Regions from separate parts of the Homo sapiens genome. Here region 2 is linked to region 1. A link means that fine-mapping ties the variant in region 1 to the expression of a gene that starts in the linked region. Tissue or cell type: atrial appendage. Region 1 holds a variant in brackets; the other region holds the start of a gene. All regions are shown on one strand. Distances are from middle to middle.

The links. PIP is the estimated chance that this variant, and not a neighbour inherited with it, causes the effect.
Region 2: CEACAM19 starts here. The variant in region 1 is fine-mapped to the expression of CEACAM19 in atrial appendage (GTEx, PIP 0.99). The same link has a PIP of 0.9 or more in left ventricle.

What each region holds. Positions count from the first base shown.
Region 1 is chr19:44,587,512-44,595,617 of GRCh38, forward strand. No RefSeq gene overlaps it. Among named protein-coding and RNA genes, the nearest start is that of IGSF23, 22 kb to the right of the region's middle. RefSeq lists enhancers at 1,940-2,439, 6,172-6,997. The variant C/T (reference allele first, on the strand shown) is at 5,004.
Region 2 is chr19:44,668,058-44,676,163 of GRCh38, forward strand. CEACAM19 (CEA cell adhesion molecule 19) reads left to right here and starts at 3,425. Exons shown (of 8, transcript NM_001127893.3): 1 at 3,425-3,929; 2 at 4,539-4,907. The coding sequence starts at 3,875.

The sequences.
Region 1 (8,106 bases):
AGAGAAAGAGAAAGAAAGAAAGAAAGAAAGAAAGAAAGAAAGAAAGAAAGAAAGAAAGAAAGGAAGGAAGGAAGGAAGGAAGGAAGGAGGGAAGGAAGGAGAGAGAGAGAAAGAAAGAAAAGAAAGAGAAAGAAGAAAGAGGAAGAGAGAGAGAGAGAAAGAAAGAAAGGAAGGAAGGAAGGAGGGAAGGAAGGAGAGAGAGAAAGAAAGAAAGAAAAGAAAGAAAGAGAAAGAAGAAAGAGAAAGAAAGAGAGAAAAGGAATAAAAGAATGGCTACTCTATAGGCAGAGCAATGGCATGGGCTGCTCAACTGAGTACACTTACAGTTACTTCTTGATTATATGCCAAACAAAGGGTGGATTATTCATGAATTTTCCTGGAAAGGGGTGGGCAATTCCTGGAACTGAGGGTTCCTCCCCTTTTTAGACCATATAAGGTAAGTGCTAGATGTTGCCATGGCATTTCTAAACTGTCATGGTGCTTGTGGGCATATCTTTTAGCATGCTAATGTATTATAATTAGCACATAAGGAGCAATGAGCATGACCAGAGGTCACTTTTGTCGCCATCTTGGTTTTGGTGGGTTTGGCTGGCTTCTTTACCACATCCTGTTTCATCAGCAAAGTCTTTATGACCTGTATCTTGGTGGCACATTTTTTAAGTGCTGAAAGGAAAACAACTGTCAACCCAGAATTCTGAATCAAGTGAAAGCATTCTTTAGGTTTAGGAGTGAAGGTGAACATTGAGGTTAGCTCGGTTTCACCTTGAATATGTCTTAAATCCCCTATGCATGCAGTGAATGTGGTTTTATACATAAAATGTTGTACAGCAGTAGCTGTATGCATACTTACAGTGTGTACAGAGATGCTCAGTACCCAACAGGACAAATCTGCAAAATACAGCTTCACCATTGAGCCATAGATGGAGCTGCTGCCTCAAATTAGAGCTGTATTTCCACCTGTTTCTATAGTTAAAATTTCATAAATTAAATGTGTGTATGATGCAAGTCTACTGCAATTCCTTTACTAGAGAGAAGTTGCAAGAACCAATGATCCCTGTTTCTTTATATTCATGCCCTCATCTAATTCCTTCCCCCTGAGTGTGGGCTGTACCTAGTGACTCATTTCTAATGAATGAAGTACAGCAGAAAGTGATGGCTGTCACTTCTCAGATTGGGTTACAAAATGGCTGTTGCTTCTATTTTCAACTTCTCTCTCACTCTGTCTTGAATCACTTTCTGAGGGGAAAGCTACCTGCCAGTAGCAAACACCATCTGAGTGAGCTTGGGAGCAGAACAATCACCCCATACCCTCATCCCAAGTTGAGCTTTTGAATGACACTGCAGCCCCCGTCCAGTAGCTTGATCGCATCAGAGGGAAAAGACCTGGCTAAGCTGAGCCCAGATTCTTGACTCAAAGAGACTATGAGATAACAAATGTTTTATTGTCTTAAGCCACTACATTTTGGAGTAATTAGTCATACATCAATAAATAACTAATGCAGGTGGCCTTCTGGGACACAGAGGAGGATGGAGAAGGTTGAATATCAGAGAGCAGATCTTGGGGACAAAAACACAGAGTCCTCATCACAGGTTATCATGCGAGCCCAGAAAACAAGCATCTAACATCTCATCAATAATATGTTCCCACACACCACCAATACTTTTACCAAAAAAAGTACTAATAGCTAATATTTCAGTTTGTATTTTCTAAAATTGACTCCATATGGCTTTCCTTTGGTGGAAAAGGAAAAAGAAAATTTGTCTCTGTCATTAACTTAATGTGATGTGTCAAATTTTATTTTATTTTATTTTATTTATTTTTTGGAGCAGGGTCTCACTCTGTCACCCAGGCTGGAGTGCAGTGGTGCAATCTCAGCTCACTGCAACTTCTGCCTCCTGGGTTCAAGCAATTCTCATGCCTCACCCTCCTGAGTAGCTGAGATTACAGGCACACACCACCATGCCCAGGTCATTTTTTTTGTATTTTCAGTAGAGACAGGGTTTTACCATGTTGGCCAGGCTCGTCTCAAACTCCTGACCTCAAATGATCCACCCACCTCAGCCTCCCAAAGTGCTGGGATTACAGGCATGAGCCACCACGCCTGGCCAATGTGTCAAATTTTAGATGAGGACACAGAGAACAGGACAGAGGACCTGAACTTTAATAATCATTCTCATATCAAATATGGAAACCACGTTGTTACGGTTTAAATGCTTGTCTCCTTCAAAATTCATGTTGAAACTTAATAGGCAATGTGGCAGTATAGAAAGGTGGGACCTTTAGGGGGCGATTGGGTCATGCAGGTTCTGCTCTGATGAATGGATTAATCCATTCATGGGTTAATGGGTTAATGAATTAATAGGTTATTATGAGAGTGGCATTAGTAGCCTATAAGAAGAGGAAGAGAGACCTGAGCTAGCATGGCCCCTTGTCATGTGATGCCCTGCACTCTATAGACTGCAGAGAGTCCACACCAGCAAGAAGGCTCTCACGAGATGTGGCCCCTTAACCTTGGACTTCTCAGCTTCCATGACTGTAAGAAATAAGTTCCTTTTCTTTATAAATTACACAGTTTCAGATATTATGTTATAAGCAACAATTAGAAAATCTTTAAATCCACCTGGGACCTGGAAGCCCCCTCTGCGGCTTCAAGATGTCCTGCCTTTCTGAGCTAAACCAATGTATACCTTACATGTATCAATTTATGTCTTTGCCTATAATTTCTGTCTCCCTAAAATGTATAAAACTAAGCTATAACCCAACCACCTGGGCACGTGTTCTCAAGACTTCCTGAGGCTGTGTCATGGATCATGATCCTTAACCATGGCAAAATAAAATTCTAAATTGATTGAGACCTGTCTTAGATACTTTTTGGTTTGCAGCTGCAACCAAATGTCAGCCAGAGTTGCTGTCTCATCTGAGGCTCAACTCGGGAAGGATCTGCTTGGAAACCAGGGCGTTGGTAAGGGAGTAGACCACCCTTCATATTGTCTTATGTCCAATTTCTCCCTCCAAAGAAAGAAGAAGTAAAAACTAAAAGGCAGAAATGAAATCCACAGGCAGACAGCCCGGCACCACACCCTGGGCCTGGTAGTTAAAGATCGACCCCTGACCTAACCAGTTATGTTATCTACAGATTCCAGACATTGTATGGAAAAGCATTGTGAAAATCCCTGTCCTGTTCTGTTCTGTTCTGATTACCGGTACATGCAGCCCCCAGTCACATACCCCCTGCTTACTCAATCGATCACAACTCTCTCACACGGACCTCCTTGGAGTTGTAAGCCCTTAAAAGGGACAGGAATTGCTCATTAGGGGAGCTCAGTTTTTGGAGACGTGAGTCTTGCCAAAGCTACTGGCTGAATAAAGCCCTTCCTTCTTTAAGTCAGTGTCTGAGGGGTTTTGTCTGTAGCTTGTTCTGCTACATTGGCAGCATTCAATTGCTAACTGGTTGTAGGACTGAGGATCTCCATTTCTTGCTGGATTTTGCCCACATGGGCCTCCCAACATGACCACTTGTTTCCTCAAAGCCAGCAAGGGAGAGAGTCTCCTGGAAAGATGACTCTATGTTACAGAATTGCCAGAGGTGTTCAGACCAGAGCAACTAACACAGGAGACAGAAATTATTTAGGCAGATAGTGAGGGCAAAAGAGCTCTCAGCAGAACTTCCCTTCTAACAAAAAGTAGCCCAAGAAATCATTTTTCCTAACAAAGAGCAGCCTGAAAAATCGGGCTGCAAACATAAATAAGGAAGCTAGAAGCTTGCATGGGGGAGAGCCAGCAGCTGCACCAATAGAAAAGGGCTACCTGGGAGGGGAACATCACATACTCGGACCTGTCAGGAGGTGGGGGGATGGCGGGGAGAGCATTAGGACAAATACCTAATGTATGCGGGGCTTAAAACCTAGATGACGGGTTGATAGGTACAGCAAATCACCATGGCACATGTATACCTATGTAACAAACCTGCATGTTCTGCACTGTCATGCACGTCCATGTGAAGTGACCACCAAACAGGCTTTGTGTGAGCAATAAAGCTTTTTAATCAGCTGGGTGCAGGCAGACTGAATCCAAAAAAGGAGTCAGTAAAGGGAGATAGGGGTGGGGCATGTTTATAGGATTTGGGTACATAGTGGAAAATTATAGTTAAAGGGGATTGTTCTCTTGCGGGCAGGGGTGGGGGTCACAAGGTGCTCGGTGGGGAGCTCCAGAGACTAATTGTCCAGGAGAAGGAATATCACAAGGTAATGTCATCAGTTAAGGCAGGAACCGGCCATTTTCACTTATTTTGTGGTTCTTCAGTTGCCTTAGGCCATCTGGATGTATACATGCAGGCTTGGGCTCAGAGGCCTGATGTGCACATGTATCCCAGAACTTAAAGTAAAATAAAAATAAAAATAGATTCTAAAAAAGAAAGAAAAGGGCTACCTGCGGGGCAGGCATGTCCACCATGAAAGCTCAATCTTCCCTTTTTTGTTAGCAAGTATACAGTAAGAAAGAAATGGATAACATTGTGCAGCTCAGGCTGAAAACCCACCTGCATAATAAGACTGGGGTGGGGGCTGCCAGAAATTCATGCCCTGTGCAAATGGAACACCTGGTCCTAACCAGTTTCTTACACCCTATGTAGAGCAGGTACTGCCTCCCCACCAGCTCATCTATAAAAACCCCTGCATTTCACCATGGACCAGCAACCTATTTTTCTGGGACCCCCTCTCTGTAACAGACAGCTATTCTCTCTCTTTTGCCTATTAAACTTCTGCTGTCAACCTCACTCTTTTCTTTCCCCCCAGGGGAAAGTGTAAACGCAGTCACCCACTACCACAAATTATGCAGTAACCTCACTCTTTGTGTGTCCGTGTCCCAGTTCTCCATGGCCGTGAGACAACAAACCTCAGGTGTCACCTCAGAAATGAGGCCATTTCACAACTTCATCTTGTACAGGAGCTGGGTAAAATAGGGCTGACACTTCCTGGGCTGCATTCCCAAGAGGTTAGGCATT[C/T]ATAGTCACAGGATGAGATAGGAGGCCAGCACGAGATAGGAGGCCAGCACAAGATAGGAGGCAAGCACAGGTCACAAACACCTTGCTGATAAAATGAAATGTGGTAAAGAAGCCAGCCAAAACCGAGATGGTGACAGGACTGACCTCTGGTAGTCCTCACTACTCTAATTATAACACATTATTAGCATGCTAAAAGACACTCCCACCAGCATCATTACAGTTTACAAATGCCATGACAATGTCCACAAGTTATCCTATGTGGTCTAAAAAGGGGAAGAACCCTCAGTTCCAGGAAATCCCTGCCCCTTTCCTGAAATACTCATGAATGACCCACACCTTGCTTAGCATATAATCAAAGAGTAACTGTAAATGTACTCAGCCGAGTAGCCCATGCCACTGCTGTGCCTATGGAGTAGCTACTCTTTATTCCTTTACGTTCTTAAAAAACTTGCTTTCACTTTATTCTATGAAAAAAATAGGCTGGGTGCAGTGGCTCATGCCTGTAATCCCAGGACTTTGGGAGGCTGAAGCAGGCGAATCACTTGAGGTCAGAAGTTTGAGACCAGACTGGCCAACATAGTGAAACCCCATCTCCACTAAAAATACAATAAATTAGCCAGGCGTGGTTGTGCGCGCCTGTTGTCCCAGCTACTTGGGAGGCTGAGGCAGGAGAATTGCTTGAACCCGGGAGGCGGAGGATGCAATGAGCTGAGATCGTGCCACTGCACTCCAGCCTGGGCGATAGAGTGAGACACTGTCACACACAAAAAAATAAAAATAAAAATAAAAATAAATGTATGGACTGCTTTGACGAGTGGAAGAAGTTGGGAGTAATGCCCTCAACTACTCTAGTGAGGTCATAAGACAAAAATAAAATAAATAAAAATATAAAATAATAAAATAGAAATAAATGTAAAATAAAATAAATACAAATATAAAATAAATGTATAATAAAATAAATACAAATATAAAATAAATGTAAAATAAAATAAATACAAATATAAAATAAATGTAAAATAAAATAAAAATGAATAAAGTAAATTAAAATAAAAATAAATTATTTTATTTTATATGTTGAAATAAAAAGGTTTTATATGTTGAAATCCTAATGCCCAAGGTGATGGTATTAGGAGATGAGGCTTGGGTCAGTGATGAGATCATGAGGGAGGAGCTCTCATAATGGGATTGGTGCCCTCTTATAAAAGAGACCCCAGGGAGACCCTCATCCCTTCTGCCATGTAAGATCCATCCAGTGCACCGAGAACTGGGGTGCTTCAAAATGAGCAAGGATCGTGTTGGTTCTCAGAGCCAGATTTGGCTCCAGCCCCTTTAGCATTGGTCCTTTGCCTGCTGAGTTCCCTCAACCAGGCTTGCCTTTCCTTCTGTTCTGCACTCCCCACCCACTCCTGCTGGCTGGAACTCAGCTGAGCCTTCATAGCTGAACAACGAGTGAATGAATGAATGAACAATTGAAGACCCAGCTTCCTGCTTCAAGCAGGAAGTCACCCCCAGAACACTGGGCTTTCCCATCTTCTGGCCCAGATAGCATCAGTCTTATCTCCTTTACTGACCATAAATTTCTGTGGGGAAAAGCAAGAGAGATCAGATTGTTACTGTGTCTGTGTAGAAAGAAGTAGACATAGGAGACTCCATTTTGTTATGTACTAAGAAAAATTCTTCTGCCTTGAGATTCTGTTAATCTATAACTTTACCCCCAACCCTGTGCTCTCTGAAACATGTGCTCTGTCAACTCAGAGTTAAATGGATTAAGGGCGGTGCAAGATGTGCTTTGTTAAACAGATGCTTGAAGGCAGCATGCTCCTTAAGAGTCATCACCACTCCCTAATCTCAAGTACCCAGGGACACAAAAACTGCGGAAGGCCGCAGGGACCTCTGCCTAGGAAAGCCAGGTATTGTCCAAGGTTTCTCCCCATGTGATAGTCTGAAATATGGCCTCGTGGGAAGGGAAAGACCTGACCGTCCCCCAGCCCGACACCCGTAAAGGGTCTGTGCTGAGGAGAATTAGTAAAAGAGGAAGGAATGCCTCTTGCAGTTGAGACAAGAGGAAGGCATCTGTCTCCTGCCTGTCCCTGGGCAATGGAATGTCTCGGTATAAAACCCGATTGTATGCTCCATCTACTGAGATAGGGAAAAACCGCCTTAGGGCTGGAGGTGGGACCTGCGGGCAGCAATACTGCTTTGTAAAGCATTGAGATGTTTATGTGTATGCATATCTAAAAGCACAGCACTTAATCCTTTACATTGTCTATGATGCAAAGACCTTTGTTCACGTGTTTGTCTGCTGACCCTCTCCCCACAATTGTCTTGTGACCCTGACACATCCCCCTCTTCGAGAAACACCCACAGATGATCAATAAATACTAAGGGAACTCAGAGGCTGGCGGGATCCTCCATATGCTGAACGCTGGTTCCCCGGGTCCCCTTATTTCTTTCTCTATACTTTGTCTCTGTGTCTTTTTCTTTCCTAAGTCTCTCGTTCCACCTTACGAGAAACACCCACAGGTGTGGAGGGGCAACCCACCCCTACAATTTCCCAAGCACAAACACGAGGCCTGACACATGTGGACGTCCCCCTCTGCGTCCCCCTCTTATTGAATTTATTTTCTGTGCCAGGGACTTTACACGCCATGTGTCACTGAGTGCTCACAATGACACAGTGAGGTAGAAGTTATCGTCATCCTTCCACAGAGGAAGAAAGAGGATCGTGTGCACAAAGTCACCTGCCCAAGACAGTTGGAAGGACAATGCAGGTGTAAGCCTAGGACATTGATGTGGAGCCCCAGAAGAACATGTATTCTGGCCGGGCACGGTGGCTCATGCCTCTAATCCCAGCGCTTTGGGAGGCTGAGGAGGGTGGATCACCTGAGGTCAGGAGTTCGAGACCAGCCTGGCCAACATGATGAAACCCCGTCTCTACTGAAAATACAAAAAAATTAGCTGGGCATGGTGGTGGGCACCTATAATCCTAGCTAATCAGGAGGCTGAGGCAGGAGAATTGCTTGAACCCGGGAGACAGATGTTGCAGTGAGCCGAGATCTCGCCACTGCACTCCAGCCTGGGCAACAAGAGTGAAATTCCACCT
Region 2 (8,106 bases), 81 kb after region 1:
AAATATATAATATATAAATATATTTATATATTATATATTTATATAATATTTTATATAATATGTTATATATTTTTATATAATATATTATATATATTTATATGCTATATTATATAGTATATTATATATAATATATTTTATATATTATATATATATTTATATAATATTTATATATTATATTTATATAATATGTTTATATATTATTATATTTATATAATATGTTTATATATTATTATATTTATATAATATGTTTATATATTATTATATTTATATAATATGTTTATAATATATATAATATATTTATATAATATGTTTATATATTATATATATAATATATTTATATAATATGTTTATATATTATATATATAATATATTTATATATTATTATATATATTTTATAATATATAATATATATAATATAATATATATATTATATATATTATATATATTATATATTAGTTATAATATAAATATATAATATATGTATATAATTATATAATTATATACATATTATATATGTATATAATTATATAATTATATACACATATTATATATGTATATAATTATATAATTATATACACATATTATATATGTATATAATTATATAATTATATACATATATTATATATTATAATATATTATATATTATATTATATATTATAATATGTATATATAAATATAATATATAATATAATATAATATAATATATATAATATAATATATAATTATATATAATATATATTATATATAAAATAATATATATATATTCAGTTTTTTTTTTTGGAGATGGAGTCTTGCTCTGTTGCCCAGGCCGGAGTGCAGTGGCACAATCTTGGCTCACTATAACCTCCACCTCCCAGGTTCAAGTGATTCTCCTGCCTCAGCCTCCCGAGTAGCTGGGATTACAGGCATGCGCCACCACGGCCAGCTAATGTTTGCATTTTTAGTAGAGACAGGGTTTCATCATGTTGCCCGGGCTGGTCTTGAACTCCTGACCTCAAGTGATCTGCCTGCCTCTGCCTCCCAAAGTGCTAGGACTACAGGCATGAGCCACCACGCCTGGCCTATTCAGTATATTTTTTTGAGACATGGTCTCACTCTGTCACCCAGGCTGGAGTGCAGTGTCATGATCAAAGTTCACTGCAGCCTTGACCTCCCAGGTTCAACAATCCTCCTGCCTCAGCCTTCTGAGTAACTGGAACTATAGTTGAAAGCCACCAAGCCTACCTAATTTTTTAAATTTGTTTTGTGTAAAGTTGGGGTCCTACTATGTTGCCCAGCCTGGTCTCCAATTCCTAGGCTCAAGCAATCTTCCCACCTCAGCCTCTCAGAGGGGTAGGATTACAAGTGTGGGTCACCTGTGCCTCCCTAAATTTATATTTAAATAGCCACATATGACTAATAGCTATGATATTAAACAGCATAACACTAGACCCTCCATTATCCAAGCTCTGTTGATCCAACCAACAGAGCACATTTGATCTCTCCTACCTCCCAGCCTCACACACACAGGCCCCACACCCTCCTTCCTGGCTCCACTCACCCAAGATATTGCAACCTCCTCAATACACCTTGATGACTATCTCAGCCTCCACATCCTTGCATTGCTATTTATGCTGCCTGGTGCACCTCATGCTGCCTCACCCCATCATCTGCCTCATTTCTACTCTTACTCCAGGTCTCAGCTCAGATGCCCCCTCCCCCAGGAAGCCCTCCCTAGCCGTCAGGTTGAATGAGGTGTGTCTCCTTGGGCTCTCCCAGACTCCTGGGCTCCTCCATCCCAGCCCTGATCACTCTGGATCATAATTGTGTGAGAGGGGTCTGCCCCCCCAAACCCTACAGGATTGTGTGCCCTACTGTGGACAGAGGGCAGAGCAGAGGTGGTCTCAATCATCACTGTGTCACCAACATCACCCAGCACACACAACTGGGCACTGGGAATGTGTGCTGGAATGAATGGAGGATGCTTTTTAAAAACTAGGCTAAGCCAGGTATGGTGAGTCACATCTGTAATCCCAGTACTTTGGGAGGCTAAGGTGGGAGGATCACTTGAGCCCAGGAGTTCAACACCAGCCTGGGGCAACATAGTGAGATCCCATCTCTACAAAACATATAAAAATTGACCAGGGATGGTAGCACACAACTGTGGTCCCAGCTACTCAGGAGGCTGAGACGGGAGGATTGCTTGAGCCCAGGAGTTGGAGGCTGCAGTGAGCAATGATCATGCAACTATACTCCAGCCTGGGCAACAGAGCGAGACCCTGTCTTAAAAAAAAAAAAAAAGAATAACACACTTGGAATAAACATGATCCAAAAAAGTACAAAACATACACTCTGGGGCTGGGTGCAGTGGCTCATGCCTATACTCCTAGTACTTTGGGAGGCCGAGGCAGGAGGATCATCTGAGGTCAGGAGTTTGAGACCAGCCTGGCCAACATGGCAAAACCCCATCTCTACTAAAAATACAAAAATTAGCCAGGCATGGTGACGCATGCCTGTAATCCCAGCTACTCAGAAGGCTGAGGCAGAAGAATCACTTGAACCTGGGAGGCGGAGGTTGCAGTAAACTGAGATTGTGCCACTGTACTCCAGCCTGGGTGACACAGCATCTAAAAAAGAAACCAATCCAAAAACTACAAAATATTCTTGCAATTATAGGTGACATATTTAAATGGTAAGACAACCAATGTTCATGAATGGAAAGACAGAGCAAGACCCTGTCTCAAGAAAAAAAAAAAAAAAAAAAAAAAAAAAAAACAGGCTGAGCGCGGTGGCTCACACCTGTAATCCCAGCACTTTGGGAGGCCAAGGTGGGCAGATCACCTGAGGTCAGGAGTTCAAGACCAGCCTGACCAACATGGAGAAACCCTGTCTCTACTAAAACTACAAAAGTAGCCGGGCGTGGTGGCGCATGCCTGCATTTCCAGCTACTCCCTGAGGTGGGAGGATCGCTTGAACCCAGGTGGCAGAGGTTGCGGTGAACTGAGATTGCGCCATTGCACTCCAGCCTGGGCAACAAGAGCGAAACTCCATCTCAAAAGAAAAAAAAAGAAAAACACGAGGCTAAGAGCTTTTTTTTTTTTTTGAGACGAAGTCTCGCTCTGTCACCCAGGCTGGAATGCAGTGGCGCGATCTCGGCTCCCTGCAACCCCTGCCTCCCAAGTTCAAGTGATTCTCCTGCCTCAGCCTCTCCAGTTGCTGGGATTACAGGTGCCCACCACCACGCCTGACTAACTTTTGTATTTTTAGTAGAGACAGGGTTTCACCATGTTGGCCAGGCTGGTCTCAAATTCCTCACCTCGTGATCTACCCACCTTGGCCTCCCAAAATGCTGGGATTACAGGCGTGAGCCACCGCACCCAGCCTGCCTCAGAGCCTTCAAGTGAGTCAGCCACAGGTGAAATCCCACCTCTGTCTATTGGCAGACTTGCCTCTTTTCCTGGGCCTCTGTTTCCACATCTGTGCAATGGGAACAGTTATTTATGGTGGCTGCTGAATGAGGCAGTGTGTGTTTGAACAAACCCAGGGGAATTGTTCAAACAGAGGCTGTTATGACTATTGCTACAGTGACTGCTGTTGTAGTCACGCTGAGTGAGAAAAAGAGGTTGAAGAGGGTCAGGGGAGGAGTCCTGGGAAGTTCCCCAGTCACCCTGAAAAACTGGTTCAACCTCTGTCTGTGCTCCCATCCCAGGGAGTATAGGTGGAGCCTCCAGAGCCCATGGACAGGGCATGCTGGGGCTGGGCCAGCCCCAGCGGTGTCTCTAAGGCACCCCTGGGATCCCCACTGAGCTGGCCTACTTCAGACAGCCAGGGCCCACCCCTCTGGCCCCCTTAGTGTCCAGCTCGTGGCCCCTTGGCATTTCCACAAGACGCCAAGATGGAGATTCCCATGGGGACCCAGGGCTGCTTCTCAAAGAGCCTCCTGCTCTCAGGTAAGGAGGAAATAGACCCTAAAGGCCAAGGGGAGAAATGGGGACTCAGCCCAGAGATTGAAGTTTCCTCTTAGAAGTAGGGAAAGATTACCTGAGAGGATGAAATTAGAATAAGATGGGGGAGGGGCAACAGAATCACAGCCTCATTGCCATTTTATCTATGGAATTTTCTATAATGTTAGGACCATGAAGGCAGGAATTTATGTATGTTTGGTTCCCTGCTATATCTCCAGTGTCTAGAAATTGAAGGAAGTTTAGATGTATTACATATAGTTGGTATTATAGCTTATATATTACATATGCCTATAAGTATTGGTTGAATAAATGAATGAATGAATGAATTCAGAGAGTCCATGTGTTTAGAAGCAGGCCACACAGCATCTCAAGGTAGAAAAACCTCTGGATCAACAGGATGGCAAATCTGTGGTAACCATGCCTGTGTTCCCACTCCTGCACCCAGGGCAGACATCACTAATCAATCCCAGCATTGTTTCCAATGAGCAGCACTCAGAGTCCTTGCTCCCCGCTGAAGATCTGTATCTAGAGAGGAGCATGCCATGGTCCCTGGCAACACCCCTGATCTCAGCCCTTCCCTGTAACTTCCCACAGCCTCAATCCTGGTCCTCTGGATGCTCCAAGGCTCCCAGGCAGCTCTCTACATCCAGAAGATTCCAGAGCAGCCTCAAAAGAACCAGGACCTTCTCCTGTCAGTCCAGGGTGTCCCAGACACCTTCCAGGACTTCAACTGGTACCTGGGGGAGGAGACGTACGGAGGCACGAGGCTATTTACCTACATCCCTGGGATACAACGGCCTCAGAGGGATGGCAGTGCCATGGGACAGCGAGACATCGTGGGCTTCCCCAATGGTTCCATGCTGCTGCGCCGCGCCCAGCCTACAGACAGTGGCACCTACCAAGTAGCCATTACCATCAACTCTGAATGGACTATGAAGGCCAAGACTGAGGTCCAGGTAGCTGGTAAGTGTTAGGGTCTGGGGATGAGGTGAGGAAGCTAATGAGCCCTGAGCAGCTACCATGCACCAGGTGCTGTGCAAACACCATTTCATTTGGTCCTCTCATTTATTCACTTGACACATATTGAGCATCTACTGTGTACCAATCCCCAGAGATAGTCTTTAACCCTCACATGCATTAACTAATAAAATATCTATGAAATGCCCGCCTTGTGCCTGACACTGGAGAATGCACCATCTCATTTACCTTTCACATGCACTAACATTAACCAAATTTTTATCGAGCACTTACTGTATGCCTGGTTGTGAGGAATGCATCCCTCAATCTTTATGTTTATAAAGCGAGTATTTACTGATGAATCCACTCGGGGCAAAGTGTGAGGGAAAGGGTGGTGGGCAATAATGACAGCTGGCATTTCTTGGGTGATCGTTAAGAGCCAGGCACCATCTTAAACATTTTCCCTAAAGCATAGTTTCTCAGCTTCAGCACTACTGATGTTTTGTATTGGCCAGTTCTTACTAGTAGAGGGTTTGTGCATTGCAGAGATTTCAGCAGCACCCCGGCCTCTACTCACTAGGTACCAGTAGCAGCTTCCTAGTCATGCCAACCAAAAATGTCTTCAGATATTACCAAATGTCTCCACCCTGGGATAAGAATCACCCCTGGTTGAGAACCATTACTCTATATTTACTCATTTTTACCTTAAAACAACTCCATGAGGCCAGCGCCATTATTGTCTCCATTTTACAGATTGAAAAATGGAGGCACGCAGTGGTTATGACTTGCTGAGTAAAGAATACGAACCAGAATGATGTGACATGGGAAAGGAGGTCATCAGGGAGACCTCACTCAAGAAGTGACCTTAGAGGAGAGACCAGAAGAAGGTGATTGAGGGAGGGAGGTGCTGTGGCCCCTTGCCATTTCCACAGGACACAGATCCCCTTAGAATTTATATGTTGAAATCCTAACCTCCAAGATGATGGTATTAAAAGGTGGGGCTTGGGCCTGGCACGGTGGCTTACACCTGTAATCCCAGCACTTTGGAAGGCTGAAGTGGGTGGATCACCTGAGGTCAGGAGTTCGAGATCACCCTGGCCAACATGGTAAAACCCCGTCTCTGCTAAAAATACAAAAATTAGCTGGGCATGGTGGTAGATGCCTGTAATGCCAGCCACTTGGGAGGCAGGAGAATCACTTGAACCCAGGAGGCAGAGGTTGCAGTGAACCGAGATCATGCCACTGCACTCCAGCCTGGGCAACAGAGCAAGACTCCATCTCAAAAAAAAAAAAAGTGGGGCTTGTGGGAGGTGATTAGATCATGAGGGTACAGCACTTGTAAATAGATTGTATGCCCTTATTTTTTTTTTTTTCAATTTAAAAGCAAGATTGTGGAGACAGGGTCTTACTGATATTGCTCAGGCTGGTCTCAAACTCCTGGCCTCAAGCAATCCTTCCACCTTGGCCTCCCAGTGCTGGGATTACAAGAATAAGCCACCATGCCCAGTCTCAGCTCACTGTAACCTCCACCTCCTGGGCTCAAGCGATCCTCCCACCTCAGCTTCCCATGTAGCTGGGACTGTAGGCGCATGCCATCACACCCAGCTAATTTTTTTTATTTATTGGTAGAGACTGGGTTTCACCATGTTGCCCAGGCTGGTCTCCAACTCCTGAGCTCAGGCAATCCACCCACCTCGGCCTCCCAAAGTGCTGGGATTACAGGCGTGAGCCACCACCCCTGGCCCCTAGTTAAATTTTAAAATGAGTTTTGGACAGTGAATAGAAAAAATTTTACAGAAATGGATGAAATAGGCAAAAGTCAACTCAACATATGCATTAATTTGATTACACAAATCTGCATAAAATGACACTCTAGTCCGGTTGGAGATAACAGTCCTTACTTCACTTGTGGAGCCTGAAGTGACTTCTCCCCACATTTCCGGGGTTCCCAGGTCACAGGTGCCCCCTTTGGAAGCTGCACAGCATGGTCATTAAGGAGTTCAGGTGGCCTGGGTATGATCCCAGCACTGCACTTATTGTGAGCCATCAAGCAAGTCAATTTACTGTTCCATGCCTCAGTTTCCTTATCTGTAAAATGGCATAGAGCTTACTTCTTTGTTGGATCATTCAGAGAACAGCGTGTGTGTGTGTGTGTGTGTGTGTGTGTGTGTGTGTGTGTATTTCAAACTTCATAACAACCCTAAGAACTAGGTATTCATATTATCCTCATTTCACAGACGAACCAAGTCACAGAGAGATTGAGTAATTTGCCCAAGGCCACACCGCCAGTGGGCAGCATTAGGATCCCATAGTCTATGAGCTTAGCTGCCAAGACGGGTTGGGATAGAACAGATGTCCAGCTTGAGAGTAAAGCTGGGAGGTCAGAGGGTAAGAGCCAGGTAGGCGTGGTCTTAATTCTAGCAAGTCCAGTTTAAGAATCCTCCAAGTCCCCTACATCTCCTGCAAAACACAGCCCAGAACCTCATCCTTCTGCTGAAGGGATTCAGGTATCATCAACCGAAGTGAGAAAAAGCAAAGCAGATTGGGTCTGGGCTCGGTGGCCACGTCTGTAATCCCAACACTTTGGGAGACCAAGGCAGTAGAACTACTTGAGTCCAGGAATTTGAGACCAGCCTAAGTAATTTAGTGACACCCCTTCTTTACAAAAAATTTAAAAATTAGCCAGGAGTGGTAGTGTGTGCCTGTAGTCCCAGCTACTTGGGGGACTGAGGTGGGAGGATGGCTTAAGCCGAGGAGTTGGAGGCTGCAGTGAACCGTGATCATGCCACTGCATTCCAGCCTGGGCAACAGAGTGAGACGCTGTTTCAAAAAAAGAAAAAAAAAAATCAGTTTGATGGGGTAGGGTTGGGGAGCATGTCAGCAAGCAGATTTTGGATGTGCTGAGGATCGTATGAAATCCTAGGGAAGCAGCAACATCGAGATATAGGACAGCTAAGGAGTTCCATCTGGGACATGTTGAAATTTTTTTTTTAATAGAGATAGGGTCTCACTATGTTGCCCAGGCTGGTCTTGAACTCCTGGGCTCAAGTGATCCTCCCCCATCGGCCTCCCAAATTGCTGGGATTACAGGTGTGAGCACCACGCCCAGCCCGCTGGGACATGTTGGATTTTATGTGCCACCCAGATGGTTGGATACTCAGATCTGAAAAGCAGGAGAAAGCTCTGGGCTGGAAATAGGAAACTG